Regions from separate parts of the Homo sapiens genome. Here region 2 is linked to region 1. A link means that fine-mapping ties the variant in region 1 to the expression of a gene that starts in the linked region. Tissue or cell type: thyroid. Region 1 holds a variant in brackets; the other region holds the start of a gene. All regions are shown on one strand. Distances are from middle to middle.

Region 1 (8,102 bases):
GCTGTGAAGCTATTTCATCCTTTACTCATCACAAGCCAAACTGCTTTGGGTAGAAAGCGCTTGACTGACAGGAGGAGAGCTGGCCTTGAAACTGCTGGATGAAGGCCCTGGTGAAGGCCTTCAGATCGCATCACCCTATGTAAAGCCCTCTGGTGGCTGCCTGTCTCACCAGAGTAACAACCGCAATCCTGACCCATCTCACCGCCTCCTGATTCAATCCGCCCTGGTTTCTCTGGCCTCAACTCCTGTCCAGCCACACTGGCCTCCTTGCCATTCCTTGAAAATATCGAGCTCATTTCTTCTTAAAGGCCTTTGCATTTGCTCCTACCTCTTCCTAGAACAATCTTTTCAAATCATGTTGGGCAACAGAACCACTCATGGAGGTCATCAAACTCTCAATGCCCAGGCCACATCTTACACCAGTTTAATTATCTCTGGGGCCTTAAAGATCCATTTTTAAAACAAAAACGGAAATAAAACCTCCTCAAGAATTCCAATGTGTAGTCACTTTTAGGAACCAGTGTCCTAGATCTTGTGGTTCCCAAGGTGCGGTCTCAGATCAGCAAGAACAGCATCACCTGGGAACTTGTTAGAAATGCAGATTCTCAGGTCCTAGCCCAAGGTTATTGAATTGGAAACTTTGGAAGTAGAGCCCAGGAATATGTATCTTACCAAGCCCTCCAGGTGACTCCCATGCACACCAACTTTTGAGAACCACTGTCCTACATCCTTGGTGCTCAAGATGAGCCTTGTGGACCGGTATCATCTGCACGCCCTGGAAGCTTGTGAGACAGGCAGAGTCTCCAATGCACCCCTGTGGGCAGATCTGACCCAATGAATGAGGATCTGCACTTCACCAATATTCCTAGTCATGCATATGCACATCAGAGTTCAAGAAGCTTTCTAGCTCTGTCCCCAGAGAGGTCCTGGAAGTGGTAACACACCTGGTGGCAGGAGCCCACCCAGCCCCCAGATCTTGGATTCTAAATATCTTTTAACACCAAAAGAACCAGGCTTATTGGAGAAAGGGCTGATTCCAGGGCTGGGGCAGGGAACATACCAGATGAGCCCAAAACATCTTATTGTGCCGGAAGGCAAGGAAATACCTGAAGAATGGTGGGGCTGTGTAAAAAGACACAGAACTCAGTCTGAAGGGCTCTCATTGATCAAATCTGAGATGGTCTGATAGCAGTAGATTATAACCTAGTGAATAAAATAAAAAGCCATGAGTTCATAGTTATATAAATAAATATATGATTATATAAATAAATGGGTAGGGCCAGGCATGGCGGCTCACGCCTGAAATCCCAGTACTTTGGGAGACTGAAGCTGGAGGATCACTTGAGCCCAGGAGTTTGAGACCAGCCTGGGCAACATAGTGTGATAGTGTCTCTACAAAAAAATCAAAAAATTAGCTGGGCTTGGTCGTGTGCTTGTAGTCCCAGCTACTCAGGAGGCTGAGGTGGGAGGATCCCTTGAGTCCAGGAGGTCAAGGCTGCAGGGTACTGTGATTGCACCACTGCCCTCCAACTTGGATGACAGAGCAAGATACTGTGTCAAAAAAATAAAAATAAAAATAAATAAAGTAAATGGGGCGAAGGAAAATCTCTTCCTTACAGTACAGTGGCAACTAATAAGTTGTAGAAGATGAAGTATGCTAAAACTAGTGAGGATCAGAGCACTTACATTCTAAAAGTGCCTCCCCACAAATTACTCATTCATTAAAAAGGGGGGAAAGGCAATTTTTTAGTGGAGAAACCCGGAGGAGACCACCTAAACCAATCAACCAACGTTAATGTCCCCAACGTAGGGACAAACAGCGCCACGTGCCTCCTGCTGTGATGCACTGAGGGGGACACAACATCACTTCTGTGGTGTTCCTGCCACAACGGTGTCACCTGAAAGTAATCCTCAGGAAATATCAGCAAACCCAAATGACAGGACGTCCCACAGAATAACTGGCCTGCACTCTTTAAAAAAATGTCAGGGTCAAGAAAGACAAAGCATGGCTAAGGAACTGTTCCAGACTAAAGAAAACTAACGAAACATGAGGACTCAGTGTAATATGTGACCCTTGGCCTGGAAAAATATGTGCAATTTAAAAAGGTTATTGTTGGAGCAACTGATACCATTTAACTATGCATTGTAGATTAGATATGGACTGTGGTTATATAAGCGAATGTTCTTATTCTTAGGAAGTACACACTGAAGTATAGGGTGAAAGGGCAGTATGTTCGCACTGTGCACTCTCAAATAGTTCTGCAAAAAGTGTGTGTGTGTGTGATGTGTATATTGTATACTTAGAGAGAGAGGACAGAGAATGAGGCAAAACGTAAACAATTAGTGGATTGAGAAGACGAGATTTCCTTGTACTATGCTTGGAATTTTTCTCTACGTCTGAAATTATGTCAAAATAAAAGTCATGTCCCCTCTTCCTGCAAAAGAGACCAATGAGAGCAAACACCCAAAAGGCAGTGTTCTAGAACACTCTTGCTCCTGAGTTTGGTATGACTCTCTCCCTCTGGTCATTCAGGTCCACTTTTACATCCTATGCCTCCTCTACAGGGAGGCCACACCTAGTCCCCCAACCAGTGTACCCCCCCATTCCCAGCCCTCCTCCATTACACTCCCCTGTGTTCTTGCTCACCATAGCACTTTGTTAGTATGTGACACTATTCTTGTTTATATATTTGTCTACTCATTTACTGTCTCCTCCCACTAGAAGGTAAGCTTCATAAGCATGGAGACTCTTTCTGTCTTGATAGTCCCCTCTATGTGAAATGAATGAATGCACAAATGAACAGATCTACAGATCTGAGGCTCCGTTTGCTCATCTGCAGAACAAGGGGCTTCATCTGGATTTGGTGCAACATCTGGATTCTTTCCCCGTGCTGACACTGAAGGAAGGCATCTGGCAATGGAAGAGCTACTGTGTCATGCACATCTAAAACACTCTAGGCTTTTATTTACAGTTTCTCATTTAATCCTCACCATGATCCAGCAACAGCGGTAGGAGTACTCTTATTCTGTTCCTTCATGTAGCAGAAACGTGCCGAATGCCTGTTACCTGCTAGGCGCTTAAGAAGACAGTGCTGAGCACCAGAGGCACAGCCCCACCACCACGGAGCCTGCTGGTGAGCAGGACTGGCTGAGAAAACCGAGACTCCGAAAGCTTGCCCAACTTGCTGAAGTTATGCAGCAAGGACATGGCAGAGCTGGGAAGCCCATGCTGTCTCCACTGCTGGTAACAAGGGGCGTAAAGGAGAGAAGCTGCTGAGTTGGCCACTCCTCAGGTGGCTCCCTCGGAGCTGTCACGCCCACCTGTGTCCATGGCCTCAACACCGCAGCAAAACAGAACACGCTGTATCTCAGCCATTTCCAGTTGTGTTTTTTATGATTCCATGGCCTCTCAGTCATTTATTATTTATCTGTATTTTAAATTATTAATTTTTTTATCATTTACTATTTATTTCATTTATCTGTTTTTTATTATTTCATGGCCTCTTGGAGGAGACAACGGGCTCTGTGGGGTGAGAAAATGTGAGATTGGAATGACGCACAGGAAGGATTTATGTCTGCTACAACACACGAGCCTGGAGAAGGGGGAAGGAGGGTATTGTATGTTTGAGGACACATCATGTGTATTTGAGAATATAACTTTCAACAAGAAGGGTTGCATGGACCATAAGCTTATACTTCCCATAAGCAAGAAGGCTGTCTGTTTCACTGGGCAAATATTGTGTTCAGTTCAACCTTAGAAGTAATCTAAGTTGGAGATGAGATCAAATAACCTTGACAGAAGAAGCAAATCAAAGTAACCAAATAAAAACCCACTTCAAAAATGTTTAATGAAGACACTGAGCATGAAGAATTAAA[A/G]CAATGTAAAGGAGTGGGGGTGGGGAGCTACAACTTCTTAAAAGATGTTTCTTTTTTTTTTTTTTTTTTCACCTCACTGATCCTTTCCCTACTTGAAAGCTTTCTCTGCCAGTGAATCACTCAACTAATTGCCAGGTCCTGTTTCCCTGTTTATAATCTTGAGCCTGAAGAAGCCTTCTGTAAAGGCCACAGTAAATTTCCCTGGCTAGCAAGACAAACATTTATCCTAGGGGCTGGATTACTATGCTGGGAGGTCTTAGATTCCTGGGATTTAGTGCATGCTCGCGCCTCACATTTTTTGGGTGACCTTCACCTCTCTGTGCCTCAGTTTCTGAAGCTGCACAATGAAAACAATGTTCCCCACTGAGTCACATCCTAGGATGGCTCTGAGCTCCCCGTTGGAAGGTGGAAAAGGGTATTTGGCAGAGGGTATGATTTATCTGTTCCTCTAAATGCTTCTCCTCCTTCTGGAAGCTGGCTCATTATGTTGGGAATTGAAATGCATTCTCTGTGGGCATATGAAGTAGATTCCTTACGGGAATGTTTAATGGGTGGGTGAATAAAAGAGACACATTAACAAAGTTGTGTTATTCTAGAGAAAAAAATGTCATATCTTCATTTTTTTGTGACCACAAAGTGCAGAGTTGAGGAGGGGGTGGACAAGAAAACAGTATTGTTCTTTGGAGCTATTATTCCCAGATGGCTTGCCCATGATAGAAGCTTTTCTGTTGCTGTTGAATGTCATTTTTCCAAGAAAGCCAGTCAGCTAACTGGCAACTGTGTGGGTGATGACATGCCCCACCTTTCTCTTTAGTGAGTTCCCCTTCCTTGAAAGTAAGAATAGAGTGAATGAACCCTCGTCAAAAGGTGGGGTAGAGAAAGTTCAATCAGAAGAGGGGTTCAACTAAGTACCACTCATTTTCCTCCAACCTTAAGATTCAGAGATTCTAGTCCCTTTTGGTGCCACATCCTCTTCTGAATAGACAATCCAAGCTGTGCAGCAGTGCGCAGGGACAAAGGGCTCTGTGGGGTGAGAAAATGTGAGACTGGAATGACACACAGAAGGGATTTATGTCTGCTACAGCACACGAGCCAGGAGAACAGGGAGGGAGGCTATTATATGTTTGAGGACACATCATATGTATTTGAGAATATAACTTTCAACAGGAAGGGTTGCATGGACCATGGACTCTGTAGCCTGAAAGGAATCCTGGGAGCCCCCGGAATCCCTCTGGATGTAGCTTTCAGCCACAGGAAGCTCTGTTACTGAGGAGAGACTGGAGGAACCCCAGCACCAAAAACCCAGAGAGGGTGAGCACAGCAGTAGAAATTGCGATGGTATCAGCTTAGCCAGGCCCTCATTTTAGAGTAAATTACAACCACAATAATCACAGCTCCCCAGCCTTAATCCTCTGCTATGTGCAGGTGTGATGCATAGCTTGCTTCATTTACCTCGACAATTCTTCAAGGGAGATACTACAGGCCTATTTTGCAGATGAAGAAACTGAGGCTTCAGTTTCACTAGAGAGAGTAAGTGAGTTGCCTTGCAAATGGCAGAGCCAGTATTCACACTCAAGCCTATCCGACTCAAGACCCATGTTCCTTCCAGTGTGTCAATAGTCTTGATTTAAAAGTGGGGATTATAAACCCCACTCTTTTGCAGACAGAAAAACTGAGCTCATCCAGTGGAGATAACACTGAGCAAACTGAGGTTTGACTGGTTCCAAATTTCTGCCAGGCGTTTTGTGTGAGGAGCAGTTGGACCTTGCAGAATGATGAAGCTGGGGGACTGACCAAAGGGTGGTCTGATCAAACCCCTTTTGTCTACAGAGGGAGAACTGGACTCAGAGGGCATAGGTAAGCAGCTCACGGCAGGAGGCAAGAGAGTGGCAGGCCAAGCACAGAGCCCCTATCTTCAGCCTCCCAGGGATATGACTGAGCTGCTCTTGGGTATAGTGGGAACTGATCTGTCCCACCTGCCTCCTGATGGCCTCTGTGTGCCTGGCAGGGATGCCTGCCCCAGGCTGGGATGGAGGCATGTCTGCAACCTTGGAGGGGACCCAGGAGGCCAGGGCAGGTGGGGTTGACCTTGTGACTCGGAAGCTGGCTCTGTGTGAAAACACAGACAACTGGATGGGCCTGGGGCCTAGGGGTCAGCAGCCCAGCACCTGTCTATGCTGGTGAACCCGGGAGAGAGTGGAGGGTCAGGTGAGGTGCAGAGAGCAAAAGCGAGGCTTTATTCATGGAGGTATACTGTTGTTCTCAGATGCCCCTGCTCATCCTATACCTCCCTTAAAGGCTCAGCCTTCGGAGAGAAGCCCTCTGAAACCATCTAAACTCCCTTTTCCTCCTCTGGCTACAAGAGTCGGAATTCCCACTACCATTTCTAGAAGGCTGGTTATGTGCCAGGCCCTGGGCCAGACATGCTACAAATAAGATCTGACATTTAGCTTTCCCAACAATCCTGTGACCATGCTGTAACGAGCTAAGGCTCAGAGAGATCAAGTGACTTGTCTAAGCTCACACAGCTGATGAGCAACAGAGCCAGGGTGGCAGCTCTATTAGGATAGAGACTTTTAAAAAAAAAAATTTTAGACAAGGTCTAGCTCTGTGGCCCAGGCTAAAGTGCAGTGGCACGACCACAGCTCAGTGTAGCCTCAAACTCCTGGGCTTAAGCAAGCTTCACGCCTCAGCCTCAACCTCCCAAGTAGCTAGGACTACAGGTATGAACCAACACACCTGGTTAATTTTTAAAATTTTTTGTAGAGATGGGAGCTCACTATGTTGCCCAGGCTGGCCTTGAACTCCTGGACTCAAGTGATCCTCCCACCTCAGCCTCCCAAAGTGCTGAGATTATTGGCGTAAGCCACTGCACCCAGCTGGGATTTCTGACTCCTGTTTGCTGCTGTATTCTCAGTGGTTGGCACGTAGTGGCCACTGAGATACACATTTGTTGAATAAATGTCTGACTCCAAAGCCACACTCTTTGCCCTATACCCCTCTCCTTCCTGGGAACTCTCATGGGAAAATTCAATTTTGAGTGAAAATTGACTTGGAGGACTTCAGTCAAGAGTGAATCCATTAATTTCTCTTCTATGGGTACTTTCTGTACTCACCAAAATAAAGCAATAAAGAAAACTCCCCAAGTAGAGTGTCAATGACATTATGCACATTTTTATAATTAGTAATCAGGGCTGCTGTGGAACTGATTTCTTCCTCAGGAGGATTCACAAAGATGCTTGTTAGCTCATTTTGCTTTTTGTCTTTCCTGCAGACAACACGGACAGCAACAGACCTTGGTTTTTCTGTGTCTGGTCCTTCTCCGAAAGTTCAAAGCCTTTTTCATTTTGCAACACAGAGTCTCTAAGGCACCTTCCTTAAGCCATGAGTTTCTGACTTTATATTCAACCTAGGCTTTGGGGGTGTGGAAAGGGTCATCTGTATATCCTCAGATTTCCAAAAAAGGAATTGCGAGGATGGCTTACTGCATAGCTCCCTGTTGTCCAGCAAGGCCCAAGGCCTGTTTGTTGGGTCATTACCATCCATGCCACACAGCGACTACAATTCTACAATTACAAGTGAACTTCATCTAACTTTACTGACCATGATTTTTGTGGTTGTTCATCATTCAGGACATATAGTTCAGCATCTCACAGAGCCCTAAGTCAAAATAATGCACTTTGAGTTTTAACTTCTCAGAGCTGAAAGGGATCCTACAGATGACCGCATCTAACTTTTCCCAAAGTCTTTTTCACACCACACAGCCACAGGATACTGTACCCGGGAAGGTTTCCTGTGTTGCGGAAGTGTGGGAAGTGCTACGTGGTCTACCTCCCTGTTAGGACCCACAACGCATAAGGGCAGACTGAGGTTTCCAAGAAGTCCTGTAGGAAATATACTTTTGTTTAACTTTGTTCTACACCGTATTCCCAAAATTACTGGCCCAGGAGGGGGAAGCCTTCTGTGTTTTCTTTCTTTTTCAATTTATGGAAAATTCTTTGGGAAATAAAACTCTTATCAGACCCCACCTCTCCACCTCCCAATTTTACAGATGTAGAAAGTGATGATCAGCGGAGGAAAGAGAAAAAGCGGCCAGAAGTTGTCCATAGGCCAGGCCTGGGATATATGTCTTAACTCCAGGTTCACGATTCCTCTCAGCCACACCTCCCAGGTAGGACTGTCAAATGGTTGTTAACAGAGATAGCAGGATAGTAAAGTGCAGATTG
Region 2 (8,086 bases), 190 kb after region 1:
TGGGACTGCTTGGCATCCCCGCTTCCTGCGTGCTCCCTTTCTGGGGCTCCAAGTTTGGCAGAGACCCAGGTTGCAGAAGGGCAATGGGCAAAGTGCTTGGCAGGAGGGAGCAGCAAGGGTGAAGGCCTGGAGGCAAGAAAGCCTGGAGCACACAGGTGGCAGGGGTAGGTGGGGGTCCTGCTTTCCAGAGTGTTAGACTGTGTGCCAGGGACCTGGCTCAACGCTTCACATCAATCATCTCCACTCACTCCACACAACAATCTGCAGGAGAGGGGTTATGATTAATCAGGCTGTACAAATCAAGAAACCAAGGCACAGAGAGGTCACATTATTCACTCTAGGTCACACAGCCCATGAGGGATGGAGCTGAGATTTGCAGGCAGGCAAGAGGAGGGTAGTGGGCAGGAAGCAGATCCCTGAAGGCCCAGATGCTCTGACAAGGCTCTGCAGCCACCTACACACCCAGGGACGTGGACACACTGCAGTGTGCCCAGGAAATGCTGGCCAGGTCAGGGAGGCAGCCACTCAGCAGCCCCGCCACTGACCCTTGGTCTCTTCAGGGCTGCTCCCAGGGATGATGTTCTGAGAGTTGTAAGAGGCCGACCAGACAATCCTCGATCTCCAGCAGGATCCCTGAGCTGGCCAGGTGGCCCAGCGTGGGCTGCACCTCCCACAGGCATTGCAACAACTCTTGTTGGTGGCCTGATAGACGAGACAAACTCTTCCCTAGAAAGGGGCGAGAAGTTTTGTTCAAAGTCCTAGATCAATTTTATTTTACTGTTGAGAGCTGCTAAAGAAAGTAATCATAAAGTAGGCTTTGAAAAATTTCGTTCACTGCCTCTACGTGGACGGCTGTAGACTACAGCCTGAAAATTGGCCCTCCGGGAGCTCTGTCCAGCAATCGATTTTCATTCTTGAAATGAGAAGAATTAGTCCCAGTGGAATTTCAGGCTAGTCTATGGTTCTGAGGGGAACCTCGGCCTGGCTTTCCTTGAAGCTCCCTTCTTGTTGCCAAAGCTTTCCATTTCCCTTGGTACTCACAGTTATCTTTGAGGGGGCAGGGTGCACAAAGTGCATCATGGGTCTCAAATTCAGCTCCCTGCAAGGGCCGGTAGGTGACAGAAAAGAGCAAACTAGCTAGGAGGGAGCTGTGGCACCCTGGGGAGCCCATGTGAGAGGGTGGCTAATGCCCCTCAGCTCCAGGACATTGTAGACAGGGGGTTAATGGGCCTGGGTGGCCCCATTTTGCCATATTTCAAGATAAACCAGGCATTCAGATTTTGTTGTTGTTGTTGTTGTTTGGAGACAGGGTCTTGCTCTCGCACCTAGGCTGGAGTGCAGTGGTGTAGTCATAGCTTACCGCAGCCTTCACCTCCCGGGCTCAAGTGATCCTCCTGCCTCAGCCTCCTGAGTAGCTGGGACCATAGGCATGCACCACCATACCCGGCGAATTTCTAAAAAAAATTTTCATAGAGATGGAATTTTACTTTGTTGCCCAGCCTGGCCAGATTTTTTAAATGTGAAATCTTCCAAGCTTTTATTCATAAAAATTAACTCCAAACACATTAAAGCTCAGTGACAGCCAAAGAAGCACATCTGGGAGCTGGATTCGGTTTAAGGCCTCCAGTTCGAGACTTCTCCTCTCCTCAGAATGGCTCATTGAGGCAGGGTGTATTTTATCTCATATTACAATGAGGAAACTGAGGCTCAGAGAGCAGGCCTGCAGGCCCAAGTCACACAACTGGGAAGCCACAGGGCTGAGGTGGAGCTAGGGTCTGTGGCCTCCCGCACTGAGCTCTCTCCACCCTGTGCATGCCTCTAGCTTTGGCATTGGCTCCTCCTGGCCCCTTCTCCGGTCTGACCATCCCTTTTCCACCTCATCTGCCACCTCTCCCTGGGGCTGAGGTTGGGGCTCTTCTTGCCTCCTTCTCCTCCTTTCTCTCCTTGGGGCTGGGTTTTTTTGTCTGGCAATCGCCCACCCAGAATCCCCTCATTCAAGATTGTAACCTCTGGAGCCAGGTGGCCTAGGTTTGAATTCCAGCTCTACTATCTGCCAGCTGAGTGACCTTGGGGAAGTTACTTAACTTCTCTGTGGCTCGGTTTTACCTTCTATAAAACGGAAGAAATAATTGTACCAATCTCATAGGGGTGTTGTCGGGATGAAAAGGGTTAACTTATTAAAATGCATTTAACTGTGCAGGGTACATAGTTAAGTGCCAAAGAAAAGTAAGTTAAAGCCAGGCACGGTGGCTCACGCCTGTAATCTCAGCACTTTGGGAGGCCGAGGCAGGCAGATCACCTGAGGTTGGGAGTTTGAGACCAGCCTGATCAACATGGAGAAACCCCATCTCTACTAAAAACACAAAATTAGCCAGGCGTGGTGGCGCATGCCTGTAATGCCAGCTACTAGCGGGGCTGAGGCAGGAGAATCACTTGAACCCAGGAAGCGGAGGTTACAGTGAGCTGAGATTGCGCCATTGGACTCCAGCCTGGGCAACAAGAGCGAAACTCCGTTTTAAAAGAAAAAAAAGAAAAGTACGTTAAAATAAATGCAGCAAACACTTATTGAGTACCTACTGTGTGTCAGGCCTATGATAGACTCCAGGAGTTGATGGAGGCAAAAGAACAGATCCCATCCCTCATGGAGCTGGTAACTGGATAGATGGTTCACTCGTGTGTCTTGCGCTGGCACTACCTGCATGAGGCTCCGCTGGCCTACCTGGAGGTCAAAGGATCCCATGGGCCTTTCCAAGTTGCAGCTCTGAACACACAACTCTTCCCTCCTCCCACAGCCACTGCCCTTGCTCACTCTCTCAGACCCTCAAGCTCAGCCCTGCCACCAACAACCTTGCTCTCAGGCCTTCGCACGGCAGGCACCTCTGCTAGAACTTGCTTCCTCTCCTGCCGGCTTCACTGCTCGTGGCTTAGTCAAAGCCTCCTTTTGGTTCAAACTTCAATCCTGGAGTCCCCTCCCCACGCTAGGACCTGCCCCTTTGCTTCAGTCTTTGTGCCCTGTGCGACCACACATGCACAGGGCGTCTGAGGAGTTTTTGCTTGACGTCTATTCCTGCAGTTCATGAGGGAACCTCATAGCTGAAGCAGAGGGATGTGGGAGACCCAGTCACTCCTCTTCCTCAGCTTTCGTTTGCTCACCTATAAAAGGGTACAGTGACCCTGAACTCAAAGGAGAGTGCTCAGGTGGCCAGAAGCAGATGTCACGTGGGCCACTGGGACCCTAGAGGCACTGCTGATCCCCAGGTGCTTCCTGGAGGAAGGGGCCACCCGGGGCCCGCAGAGAAGGGTGGGAAGGGTGACAGGAAGGCAAGGAAGGGCATGTGCCCAGTGGTCCTCGTCTGTCTTGGCTGGAGCCAGTATGAGGAGCACCCACTGGAAGGTCAGGTTGGAGTCCGATGGCAGGGGCCTCCAGGGAGAGCCAGTGTCACTTCGGGATGCTCCTTAGCATCCTGGGGCTGTACAGGGAGAGTGGCTGCAGAGCCCTTCCAGGCAGGGATCCTGGCCTGAGTGGGGGCAGCTCTTGGTCGGACCTGTGTGGTATTTCTTCTTCTTCTTCTTTTTTGTTTTTTTGAGACTCATTCTTGTCACCCAGGCTGGAGTGCAGTGGCGTGATCTCGGCTCACTGCAACCTCCGCCTCCCGGGTTCAAGGGATTCTCCTGCCTCAGCCTCCTGAGTAGCTGGGATTATAGGCACCCGGCACCACGCCAGGCTAATTTTTGTACTTTTAGTAGAGACGGAGTTTCGCCATGTTGGCCAGGCTGGTCTCGAACTCCTGACCTCAGGTGATCTGCCCCCTCGGCCTCCCAAAGTGCTGGGATTACAGGCATGAGCCACCGCGCCTGGCCGGTATTTCTTCTTTCATTCTCCGTGTAAATGGTGGAAGGATCGGCTCTCTCCTCCCCGCCTCCCAGGTGCAGAGAGAGAGAGAGAGAGAGAGGGACAGGAGAAGGCTGGGGTTCGGGGTTCTCACAGCGTTTCCCTCTCATGCTGCCAGGGCGGGGCAGTGGAAAATGGTCCCTGAGGGCCCGTTCATTCAAATAAGGACAAGAATAATGGCACACTCCCCATCTCCATTTAAAAATAGTCACATTAGCTGACACTGGCTTGGCACTTCCTAGATGCCGGGTGCGTTCCGAGTTCTCTACGCTGTTAACCTTGGATCTTCATAACAGCCGGAGGAGACAAGCGCTACTATTTTCCTTTCCATTTTATAGATGAGGACACTGAGGCAGAGAAATTGAGTCACTTGCCCAGGGTCACACAGCCATGGCAAGGCCAGGATTCTGGAGCTCTGTACCTGGCTTCACACCACAAGCTCAGGCCACCCTCCCGGGGCATACCGAGTCTCCCAGAACGTGGACGATCGCCCAGGGCAACGCAGTGGAGTGCGAGCCCGGTCTGGTTTGCACCTGGCTGCTCCAGGAGCCCTGGGCCTCATCCTAGGAGCCTGGCGGAAGAGGCGAGCGGTGGAGTTTGGAGGCTGCTGTGAAGGAAAGGACTAGGCGGGTCGGGTCGGGTCTGTCCTGCTCTTCTTCCGCAGGCAGGAGGCGCCCAGGGCGGGCTGCCGCACCTGGCAACGAACGTTCGCCGCGCGGCATGAGGGTGTGCGCGCGCGCTCGGCGAGCCCGGGTTCTTTGTGTGTCCGAGCCCATGCGCGCGTGCGTGTTTGCGTGTATGTGTGTGCATGTGTATGTGTGCGCGCGTGTGTCCGCACTTGGGGCGGGGCTGGAAGCCCCGGCCCCGCCCCGGCCCCGCCCCCGGCCCGGCCGAGCTGGTATTTTTCCACCCAGCAGGATGGGTGATGCTGAGAGCTGCCTGCTCAGACAACAGACACGCGAGGTCAGGAAGAAGCCGCTTATAAATTACCGCTTCCTTCGCGCCGCCGCCAACGCCGAGCCCCGAGGACCGCAAGCCCAGAGGACAAGCTGCGCCAAGAGGGAGTGCGGAGCGTTCACCCAGCGGGTCAGAGAGCGAGCGGGCAGGCAGCCCCCGGCCGGCGGAACCCGGCACAGCCGAGCAGAGCGCGGGCGGCGCCGCAGCCACCCCAGGTACCGGAGGGACCGGGAGCTGGGCGCGCAGCCGGCGCTGCCCGCCGTCTGCAGCCCCTCCCCATCCCCGCGTCGCCGCAGTCCCGGCCTCCTCCCCTCCGCGTGCGCCCATCCGGCGCCCCTTTCACCACCGCGGAAGGGACCGAGAGTCGCCTGCTCAGTCCCGCTGGCGGGGCTGTTATTGTTTCCCCGGCAAAAGGGCTCCGGCTCTTGGTGCGGGCGGCAGGAGAGTGTGTGTGTGTGTGTGTGTGTGTGTGTGTGTGTGTGTGTGTGTGTGGCATATCTGTGTGCCTGTCTCCGTCAGGATGCCTACATGTGCCTCCGTATCCCTGTGTCTGTGTTTCTGAGGGTGACTGTTTCACCGTGTCCCCAGCAGCGTGCACATGTGTGTTCCGGTGCATGTCTGTTATTCTCTGCGTGCTGGGCTGTGTGTGTGTGCCTCTCTGTGTGTGATACCTGAGTGTGCTGTCTTTGGATGTGTGCTCTTGTGTGTCCCCGTTTGTGTCTGCATGAATCTGTGTGTGGGGGGCTGCGTCTTCCAGGCCCTGGCTAGGTGCACGTGCGTGTCCCTGAGTGTGGTTGTGTCTCCAGGTCCCTGGTTGTGGGCACTCGTGTGTCCTCGGCTGTACCCAAGAGGGTGTCCCTGGTGCCTAGAGGGTCCAATGGCCAGAGCTGGTTCTCCAGGGCCGGCGCTGAGTGGGGAGAGGTGATAGGGCAGCGTGGCTCCATAGGTGCATGCACTCCATAGGTGGTGTGCAGGTGGCAGCGCCAGCGTCCAGCAGTCCTGAGTGGTGGGACCAAGGCCCGGAGGGGCAGCCAAGGGGTAGTGGACAGCCGGCAGGGCCAGCAGGACACTTCCCCCTCCAGACTATTTCTCTTCCTTCTGTGGGTTCCTCTTTTGAGTAGGAGATTCTCGTCCCCCTCCCACTAGGGAAGCCACACAGAGAGAATTCCAGGGACCTCCTCCTACAGCCTCAAAGCTTCAGCCTGGACTTCAGCCTGGACTGGAGAGGAGACCTGTGGGCAGCTCTCCCAGGCAGGGAGGTGTGTGCCGGGTAGGGCCACCGGCCTGGCTATTTTGGTCACTGTTGGGCCTCTGCCAGATCCCGGCATCCCCAGGACCAGCCCCAAAAGCTTGGGAGGCAGCCTGGGCCCCCGTTTCCTGTCTGGGGAAATAAATCAGCTCAGTAATTGCCCAGACACTTGAATGGAGGGTCTTCGGGCTGAGGTTTACTGGCGCATGGCTCCATTTGGACTTCACTAAATTGGCCCCCGCTTTGGCACAGCTGACGTTCAAGTAAATGTCACTGAGGAGATCTTTTTAAAATTTCTTTTTAATTTTTTGTTGGCTAGAAGGGAGGGGATCTTGTCCAGAGTCTCCTAGCCAGAAGGAGTTTATTTTTATGAGAGAGAGAGCGGGTGAGTGCTTAGCAACCACCTGCCTCCCTCTCGACCAGGGAGTCACCCAGGGATTGTGGGGTGGGCATGAGGAGGTGGGGTGGGGGAGGAATTTCATCAAGATGGTGTTGGAGAGGATCCAAAGGGGGCCTAGCACGGCTAAGAACCCCCAACAGGGTGGGACTGGTAGAATGGTGGGAGGTGTTAGGCCTGGCTCAGCCCCCAGTTGACCTTGGGCAACCCTTTTTCTGCCTCAGTTTCCTTACCTGTAAAATGGGTGGGGCAGACTGGTTATAGAGTAAACCAGGGACCAGAGGTAGGAGCTTGTCCCCAGGGAACTGATTTAAGTCCTATGCTTTGTTTTAATGGGTGGGTGACCTTGGTTGATTCCCTTGGTTTCTTTGAGCCTCGGCTTGGCTGCCTGGGCAGCAAGGACACCAGTGCCGGCCTCACTACGTCCTTGAGGGGATTGAGGGAGATGAGGCTGAATAAGCTTGTAGTAAGCTGTAAAGCCGGGCTCGGCTGTAGAGCTGCTGATTAGAGGGTGTCACGAGGTCCTGGGTCACTGTGGTGTATGGCAAGGGCCAAGGTGCATTCTGGAGGCTTTGTCCTTTGGGGACACCCTTGTACTAACCCATGGCTCAGCTGCAATCATCCTCCCCTGCCTCCTTCCCGTCACCTCAACCTGTGGTGATTGGACCACATCTGCTTTTCAGAGTCTGGAGGCCTGGTGAGCAGTACCCATTTTATAGATGGACAAACTGAGAGCCACCTAAGGGACTTTGCCTTGACTGGACAAAATTAAGTTTCAAAAGGTTTTCCCTAGCTCAGCTGTGAGTTTTGGCCCCATGGGGCTTTGGTCACTGATATCCTCGGGAGTTGAAATTGAACCGGGGCCTGGGGAAAATGAGGAACAAAGGTGTCCCAGTCCTTAGGGCAGGAAAGTGAGCCTATGGGACCCATTTGCACCTTGCTTCTGTCCCTAGTTACTCATTCTCCCTTCCTTGTGCCTTCCCCTGAGCCCTGCTACCCATTCTGCTGCAGGGGTCAGCCCTCCACAAGGCAGTCCGGGCTCTGGGGACTCTGTTTTCTAACCTGAACTTGTCCGCCTGTCAGTTTGTCAAAGGATTTGGGAGGTGTACTTCTCTGAAAGTCTTTCCAAAAGTCCTGAATGATAAGAAACTTGTGAGTCATTGAACACATTCCCGTATATAGAAAAAGCTGAGAAGTAAATTATAAGGGCTCCCCAGAATGCAGCTTAGCTGCAGCCAGAGGGGGTCTGCCTGGGAATTGGGGTTGGCCTGAAATCCCAGGGCCACCCTGGCAGGTACATGCTGATTCCCCACTTCTGCAGAAGGTCATGAGCAAGAGTCAGATTCTTTGGGGCTGCATCTCATTTTCCTGTGTTTGCCAACTTGGCCAGAGCGTTCGTTTGAATTTATGGGTTCTGGGCAGGAGCTGTGGATCTGGAAATGCCTAAGGAAGCCTTCAAGTGAGAATGAGAGCGCTTTTTTAATGTGCTTCATTTAGTTGATTAATAGACCTTGGTTAAGGTCAGCTCTGGGCTGGCACTGGGTTCAAGGTAGAGTGTTGGCTTTCTAGGAGCTCCTGTCCCAGAGGTAGA

The links. PIP is the estimated chance that this variant, and not a neighbour inherited with it, causes the effect.
Region 2: SLC6A6 starts here. The variant in region 1 is fine-mapped to the expression of SLC6A6 in thyroid (GTEx, PIP 0.98).

The regions. Positions count from the first base shown.
Region 1 is chr3:14,206,889-14,214,990 of GRCh38, forward strand. No RefSeq gene overlaps it. Among named protein-coding and RNA genes, the nearest start is that of LSM3, 32 kb to the left of the region's middle. RefSeq lists enhancers at 2,706-3,206, 3,207-3,707. The variant A/G (reference allele first, on the strand shown) is at 3,877.
Region 2 is chr3:14,397,784-14,405,869 of GRCh38, forward strand. It overlaps SLC6A6 (solute carrier family 6 member 6), which reads left to right and starts at 4,823. Exons shown (of 15, transcript NM_003043.6): 1 at 4,823-5,064. LOC105376959 (a long non-coding RNA gene) reads right to left here and starts at 4,624. Exons shown (of 8, transcript XR_007095825.1): 1 at 2,878-4,624; 2 at 1,361-1,454; 3 at 546-726. RefSeq lists enhancers at 4,247-4,296, 4,307-4,476, 5,797-5,856, 5,927-6,006 and a silencer at 4,617-5,146.